Regions from separate parts of the Homo sapiens genome. Here region 2 is reported to be linked to region 1. Evidence: microRNA targets listed by miRTarBase, many of them from high-throughput screens and not tested one by one. Region 1 holds a microRNA gene; the other region holds the end of a gene's coding sequence.

What was found. The annotated mature microRNA hsa-miR-3663-5p reads GCUGGUCUGCGUGGUGCUCGG and lies in region 1 at 2,122-2,142, opposite strand. An mRNA with a match to its seed (bases 2 to 7 or 8) in the 3' UTR can be bound and repressed. Matches are read on the target gene's strand: a 7mer-m8 pairs with bases 2 to 8, a 7mer-A1 pairs with bases 2 to 7 and ends in A, and an 8mer does both.
Region 2: miRTarBase lists RCSD1 as a target of hsa-miR-3663-5p. The part of its 3' UTR that is shown has no 7-base or 8-base seed match.

What each region holds. Positions count from the first base shown.
Region 1 is chr10:117,165,613-117,168,710 of GRCh38, forward strand. MIR3663 (microRNA 3663) reads right to left here and starts at 2,162; the gene lies at 2,066-2,162. All of the region lies in intron 1 of MIR3663HG (MIR3663 host gene), which reads right to left. RefSeq lists an enhancer at 1-535.
Region 2 is chr1:167,704,533-167,707,630 of GRCh38, reverse strand. RCSD1 (RCSD domain containing 1) reads right to left here. Exons shown (of 7, transcript NM_052862.4): 7 at 1-2,967. The coding sequence ends at 2,935. Among named protein-coding and RNA genes, the nearest start is that of TRP-CGG1-1, 8.6 kb to the left of the region's middle. RefSeq lists an enhancer at 284-483 and a silencer at 2,065-2,359.

The DNA.
Region 1 (3,098 bases):
CTCAAACCTCTACTCTGAGGTTGCTCACACGGCCTGCAAAAACCCGACGGGGCACCCCGCCACCCCACCTTACGTTTCCCTAGGGCCAAGTCAGTGGTCAAAAACCAACCCGGTGGTAGCTGCCTTTACCAAGGAAAGACAGCCAGGACGCCCGCACCGACGGCAACGCGCGGACAGAGAGGACCGTGCCCTCTTTCGCATGTTACGGGGCGAGGGGGCTGTTGGCGTCAGGAGCGCCCTGGGAGGAACTTCGTAGCGGATTCGAGAGACAGAGGGAATTCAGCAAACTTGCTGCCCCGGGCTGCCGGCTGGAGCCCGGCAGATTCGCTGCGCAGCACTGCCCCCTGGTATCCAGCGCCGAAAGTGCCCCCCTCCGCAGCTGCAAGGCTCCTCCCTGGGCTGCGCGGGACAGATTTTTTCTCCTTTCCTGGCTACACGCCTAACAGAGAAGCTATCCCGAGGGACCTCAAGAAGTCCCCCCAAGCCGTACTCAAAAGCCTTTCTCCCTCCTCCTCAAGCGCTCACTTCCCCAAAGAGGACCCGGACCCCTGACTGCCTGAGCCAGGTCCCCAGCATGGTCCGCAACCCTTCTCGACTCCGGCATCCACCTCCAGGCTGACGTCTACCCGGGAGGGGGCTGGGGACCCAAGGAGACTTCGACTACAGGCCCAGGCGAACGGAAGGAAGAGGCTTGCGTTCAGAGAGACACGTTTGGAGCTGGGACTGTTCATTCTTTAAGGAACACCAGCTTCCAGGGCATCTTTCGTTGGCACCTTGGCTTTCCAGAGAAGAAAGGAAGTGGGTATCAGGGCCAGCCCCTCCTCGCACCCCAGGCTGGAGAGGTGCCGAGGTGCTTAGTCACTCAGTCCAAGGGCACCTGAGAGATGGGGGCAAACTTGGCAGGAGCTTGAGCACGGAGGCGTGATCCGCGGGGGGCGCAGGCAGGGCGGGGCCCAGAGCCCCCTTCCGCCAGCCCAGCCTGCCCCTTCCAACCCAACTTGTCTGGCACTGGCTTCTACGGGTGCCGAGAAGACTGCTGTCGTGGGCACAGGGTCCTCGACCCCAGGACGTGCGTGGCCTTTCCCACCCCAACCGGATGGTTTGTCCCAGGCTTTGAGACTGAGCTTGATAGAGAGGTAGGAAGGAAGCGGCGCCAGCTCCGGAGCCAGAGTGGGTTGGAGTCCCAGCTTGGCCACCCTCTAGCTGTGTGACCTTGAGTGAGTTACTTCGCCTCTCTGAGCACCAGTTTCTTTGTTTTTTTTTTTTTCAGGAATGGTGTGAGGATTGAGGTAATGTCCTTAGGATGCCCACATGTGTTCAGTCAAGGTCGGTCGTGATGGTTGCCGGCGTCCGCTGCAGGAAAGGCCCCCAGGAATCAGCTTGTAGGGTGGGCGCCAGCCGGTACTGCACAGGGGCATCGCGGCCTCCGGTTTTAGAAGGGGCAGAAACAGCGCAGTGTCCTCAGCCCTGAGGGCTGAGTGTTGGAGGTCCCGACGCTCCTGGGTTCTCTTCTGCCCGGGTGCAGACTACAGCAGGTGCGCAGGGCTTCGCACACCTCTGCTGTGGGAAGTGAGTCATCTTCGCTTATGATTGCATCTGGCCAGGCCAGCTACGAGAACACTGGGCCTCACAGCTGCCACGTATCCAGCCTTAACCTGTGCCAGGCACTGTGCTAAGAGCTATGCACCCACAATCCCACTTCTTCACAACAGCCTCGACCGAAGTAGATGTTTAAGTTTTTAAATTTCCATTTTACAGAGCAGGAAACAGACTCAGAGAGGTTAACTTCCCCCAAGATCACACAGCTGGTAAGTTGGAGAGCGGGGACTTGAACTGAATCTTCCTTGGAGGCCAAGCTCTGAACCACTAAGTTGGGTGGCATTAGAGAGCCAAGCTCTCGCCCTTCGGTTTCCATTCACGCTACCCTCTCTGAGCCGCAATTCTCTCTCCTGCGTTGGCACTGGCAGAAGTTGAGACACGCTCCCAGGAATCGCGGGCCGTGGCGCGTACTTCCACGCACCCCAGCTAGTTCCAGAGACTCAGCTTGTTCTGAGATCCTCTTGTCGAGCCCCCTTGGTCCCGGCGCCCGGCCTGTGTGGTGCTCAGATCAGACTTATCCACCCGAGCACCACGCAGACCAGCGCCTGGACCAAGGTCCCGGGAAGGAAGCCCTCCTCCCCTTCTCCTGTGGCTTAGCTCAGCGATCAGGGAGGAGCCAGTTAAGAAGTCACAGTCGAAGCCATGACTGCTGTGTCCCGGGGAGGCAGTGGAAGGCGAGGAGCACGGAGCGGGGATACCGCCGGACAACCCCTCCCCGCCGCCCCGTCGGCGTCCTCGCTGCGCAGGGGCTCCCTTGCTGCCCCAATCTAAAAGGAAGCCGTCGCGGCCCAGGGCACGGTAACTAAAAGGCCGTCGGGGAGGGAGACGGGAATGAGTGGGCTTGGACTTGAGGTTTCCGAGCCAGCTGCTCCCTAGAGCCGTTCCTGAGCTCGTCAGCCAGCACGTATTTAATGAATGGCCACTGGGTGCTAGGCCTTGCACGCAACCCTTTCGTCCTCCCCCGGGGCTGAGCCGAGGGTGACCCAACACTAGTCGGAACGAGCCTGGAGACATGGCGCCGGGGCTGCGCTCTGCAGGCCTGGCCTGGTCGCTCTCCACGCACCCCTCTCTCTGTAGCTGCCGCCCCGCCCGGCTCTGCCTGTGGGCGCCCCCTGGCGGCAGGAAGCCGAGCGCGCACCACGCCCTCGGGGCTCCATCCCCACTCACCCCGGCGCCTCTAGCCGCTCCACCCGCACCCCCAGTTCGCGCTGCGGCGGCCAGCCTCTTCCCCGACGGCCGACCGAATGTCCCTCAGAGCTTTCCGTGACCGGCCAGGGCGCGTGGCTGTCCGGAGCCCCTCCACGTTCCCCAGCAGCAGGCCCGGCTCTCTCTGATCAGCGAGCGCGGATGCCGGTCTCCTCCCTCCCTCTGCCGGGCTCCAGCCCGACGCCAGGCCGCTGGGGGCAAGCGCTGTGCTTTGGAAGAGGAGAAAAGCCCCAAATAAACAAAAACCCAAAGCCCATTCAAGTTCAGGGGTGGAGAACTGTTGGCATCTGAAT
Region 2 (3,098 bases), not on the chromosome of region 1:
CTATTAAGGAAAACTAATTAAATAAGTTTTTAAAAAAGAAAAAAAAAAGAATATGGCCAATACGAGGGAAAGCAGAGACCAATACCATGAGAGATTCCTGACATCACTTGGGTGACTGTATTTAGGTTTGTTTTTTTCAGTTCTATGAGGCTGAAAAAGGGGGAGAGATTCATTGATCTGTATAGTTCTGTTTTTCATCAGCTAGTTTGAGTTGGGTTTCTGTCACCAGCAGCTGGGTGAACTTGTTCATTCAGCTGTACTAAACACATCCCTAATCAAGAAAACCTAATCATAAGATGATGAACTGGTTGCCTTTTCACGCATTTATTTCTTTGACATTTATTTATTGAACATGTAGTTAACTGGTCATAGGACAAAACCTGCATGAAAAACTGGGCATTGTTCAGGGTGATCTCCGTGAGGGGCCTGGAGTTCTGAGGCCACTGAAGCTTACCTAGTTCCACATGCAGCTGAAACAGAATCCTAATCCCCTTTTAAATAGTGGCAGATCCCTTCAAAGCATCCAGGTTTTTTTTCTTGCTCCCTCTCTGGAGTAAGGAAGGACACAGTTTGAAATTCAAGCTAGACTACAAAGATCGTGGAAGAATGACTATGACTATTTCTTTAACTCTGTTGCTGTAGAAGAATCCGTGTTTTCTTTCAAACCCATTATGGAAGCCTGAAAGAAACAAGGTCTTCCTGGCCTGTTAATAACTTTGTGCTACCTAAGACACAGATGAATTTCTTTAATCCCAAATTTAGAAGTTCCAGTATCAACCATGCAAATAAAACACCTGATCATGGTTGCTTTGAGAAAGGAGAGTTTTAAGCAGTGGGGCTGCAGCACCAACAAAAATCAGTCCCTGTACTTCATGAGTTCCCTGCCAAGAGCCCCCTTTATTAATGAACAAGCCCTGGGAATGGGGCCTCTATTTTTTTCACAAAATACACCAAATAATGTGACTAACAGGAGACTTGGGGGATAGAAAGGTATTCTGATGCCCACAAGCATGGTGCCGCAATGTCACATTCTTGTCATTTTTACTGCCCCTCTCTCGTCTGCTACTATGTTTAGACCCTCCAGAAGAAAAATGCAGTTTCATTTTTCATATCTAAACCCCATACTTTCTGTTCCATGCCTTCCTCAAGTAAAGTGGCCCTTTTCATCACACATTCACAATCATGCACATATTCACAAAGTACTTGCCCAGATAGTGCATGTGTATAAACAACCCAAAGACATATATAAATAAAACCAAGTATTGTTTAGGGGTAGACTTCTCTGTCAATAAATGGATGGTAGCTAGATTGATAGCAAGCTAGCCAGCTAGATAGATAGACAGACAAGTTTATAGATCTCAAAATAATTGACACACACATCTCCCAAATTCTGCTAATATCCAAAGTTTATCATAGCTATGACAATATCAGTCCCAACCAGGTTACAAGTTTGTTACAAATTACAAACTACTTAAAAACAGTTTTGAAAAAAAATATATCCCAAATATTAACACTAAACACTACCCTGGAGTTAGAAAAACTGTAAATGGGATGAGGAAACTGAGGTACCAGTGGTGACATAAGGCCTTTTTGTCTGACAGACTGTTTTCTGAAGTCAGTGTAGGATGTAGTCTAACAGACCTCCAGAAGAATAATTCTTCCAACTACCAAATCAGCACACTGAGACATTAAAATACTCAAATCAGAATAAGGACCGACCCTAAGTTTAAATGTGTATTTGGATTAACATTTTTCAGCAGGAGTGTATGAAGAGGGGAGAGGATACAAGTCAAAGACTGGGTAGTCAGGCCCCCTGTCCCTTGCAGAATCCCTTACACTCACCAAACAGAATATTAAAGCAAGAGCTACCCAATAAGAAGAGACTAAAGACCCCAACTCACTCCTTTTGTGTTGGGCAGAAGAACCTGGGCTGTGAGTCAAGAAAAGCTTCCCAGGGAAACTAAGAAAAATGTTTTAATTATGTAGCTTGCACATAATGGTACTCAAGGCACCTCCCAGGAAACATCTAATCCATGCTCAAGGATTCTGGAAATGCAAATTCATCCTCACAGGATCAATCGGAGAGCCAGCATTATTCAGGTATCACTGCTTTTCTTTCAGGAGGAGATGCAACGCGGGACATGAAACCTCCTGCCATTCTGCCTCTCCATGGGAGTTCTCCACATTCTCAAGGGTGGGAGAAGGGAGTGAGCCGAGCCAGCGACCTCCCATGGTGGTCACCAACTGGAAAACCACAGGACAGGAAAAGCTCCTGCGAATGGAGCACTTTTTTTTTTTAAATGTTTCAATCATTATCTCTTCTAGTCCAGTGTTTTAAAGACTGGTTGGCCAGTTCAAATTTGGATCAAATTGAAAAGTTGTCTCTAGGGTTTTGATACAATTTAGGGTCTTCTGTAACTTACAGGGTTTCTATTTTATGTTTATGGCCACCTAAAATTAGTTTTTAACTGATATTTGAGAACCGTAAACACTTTAGAACATTAAAAAGGAACTTTACCCAAGCAAAATCTGATCAGCTAAATTAGAGCTCAGTTAAATTAGAGATCAGCTAAATTAGCTGCAGGGATAGGTGGGTGTGGATAGCATCCAGGGCTCCACAGGCTGACCAGTGCCCCTGGGACTCATCACCACAGTACATTGTTTTAAGTAAGTTCTTGTTGTTGAACCAAGTCCATCAAATGACATAAACTCAAGCTGATAAAAGTCTGCTGCCCTCAGATTCAGTCTCCATCTGCAAGGGAACGTTTGGTGTGGAGGCCAGGAAATAATCCACCCTGTGTCTTCAGGCTGACTCCAGACACTCAGCATATTCTGCCTCTGCAATGGCTTCGTCTGCTGCTGCTACAACTGTTGCTGCTACCTGCAAAGAGATGTGTCCAGCAACTTCATCACTGGGGCACAATGAGCTGTTCTTCACATTTTAGTGTCCTGGACAGGAGTGTCATCCTGTGAACAGGGGAGGAAAGAATTAATTAGGAAAATGGTGAGGAAATCCTGACACTCAGCATCCCTCCTTGGGGATGATGGATCTGGCAATAATAGTAACAGTAGGAGTAATAGTAAGAATGATAGTCATA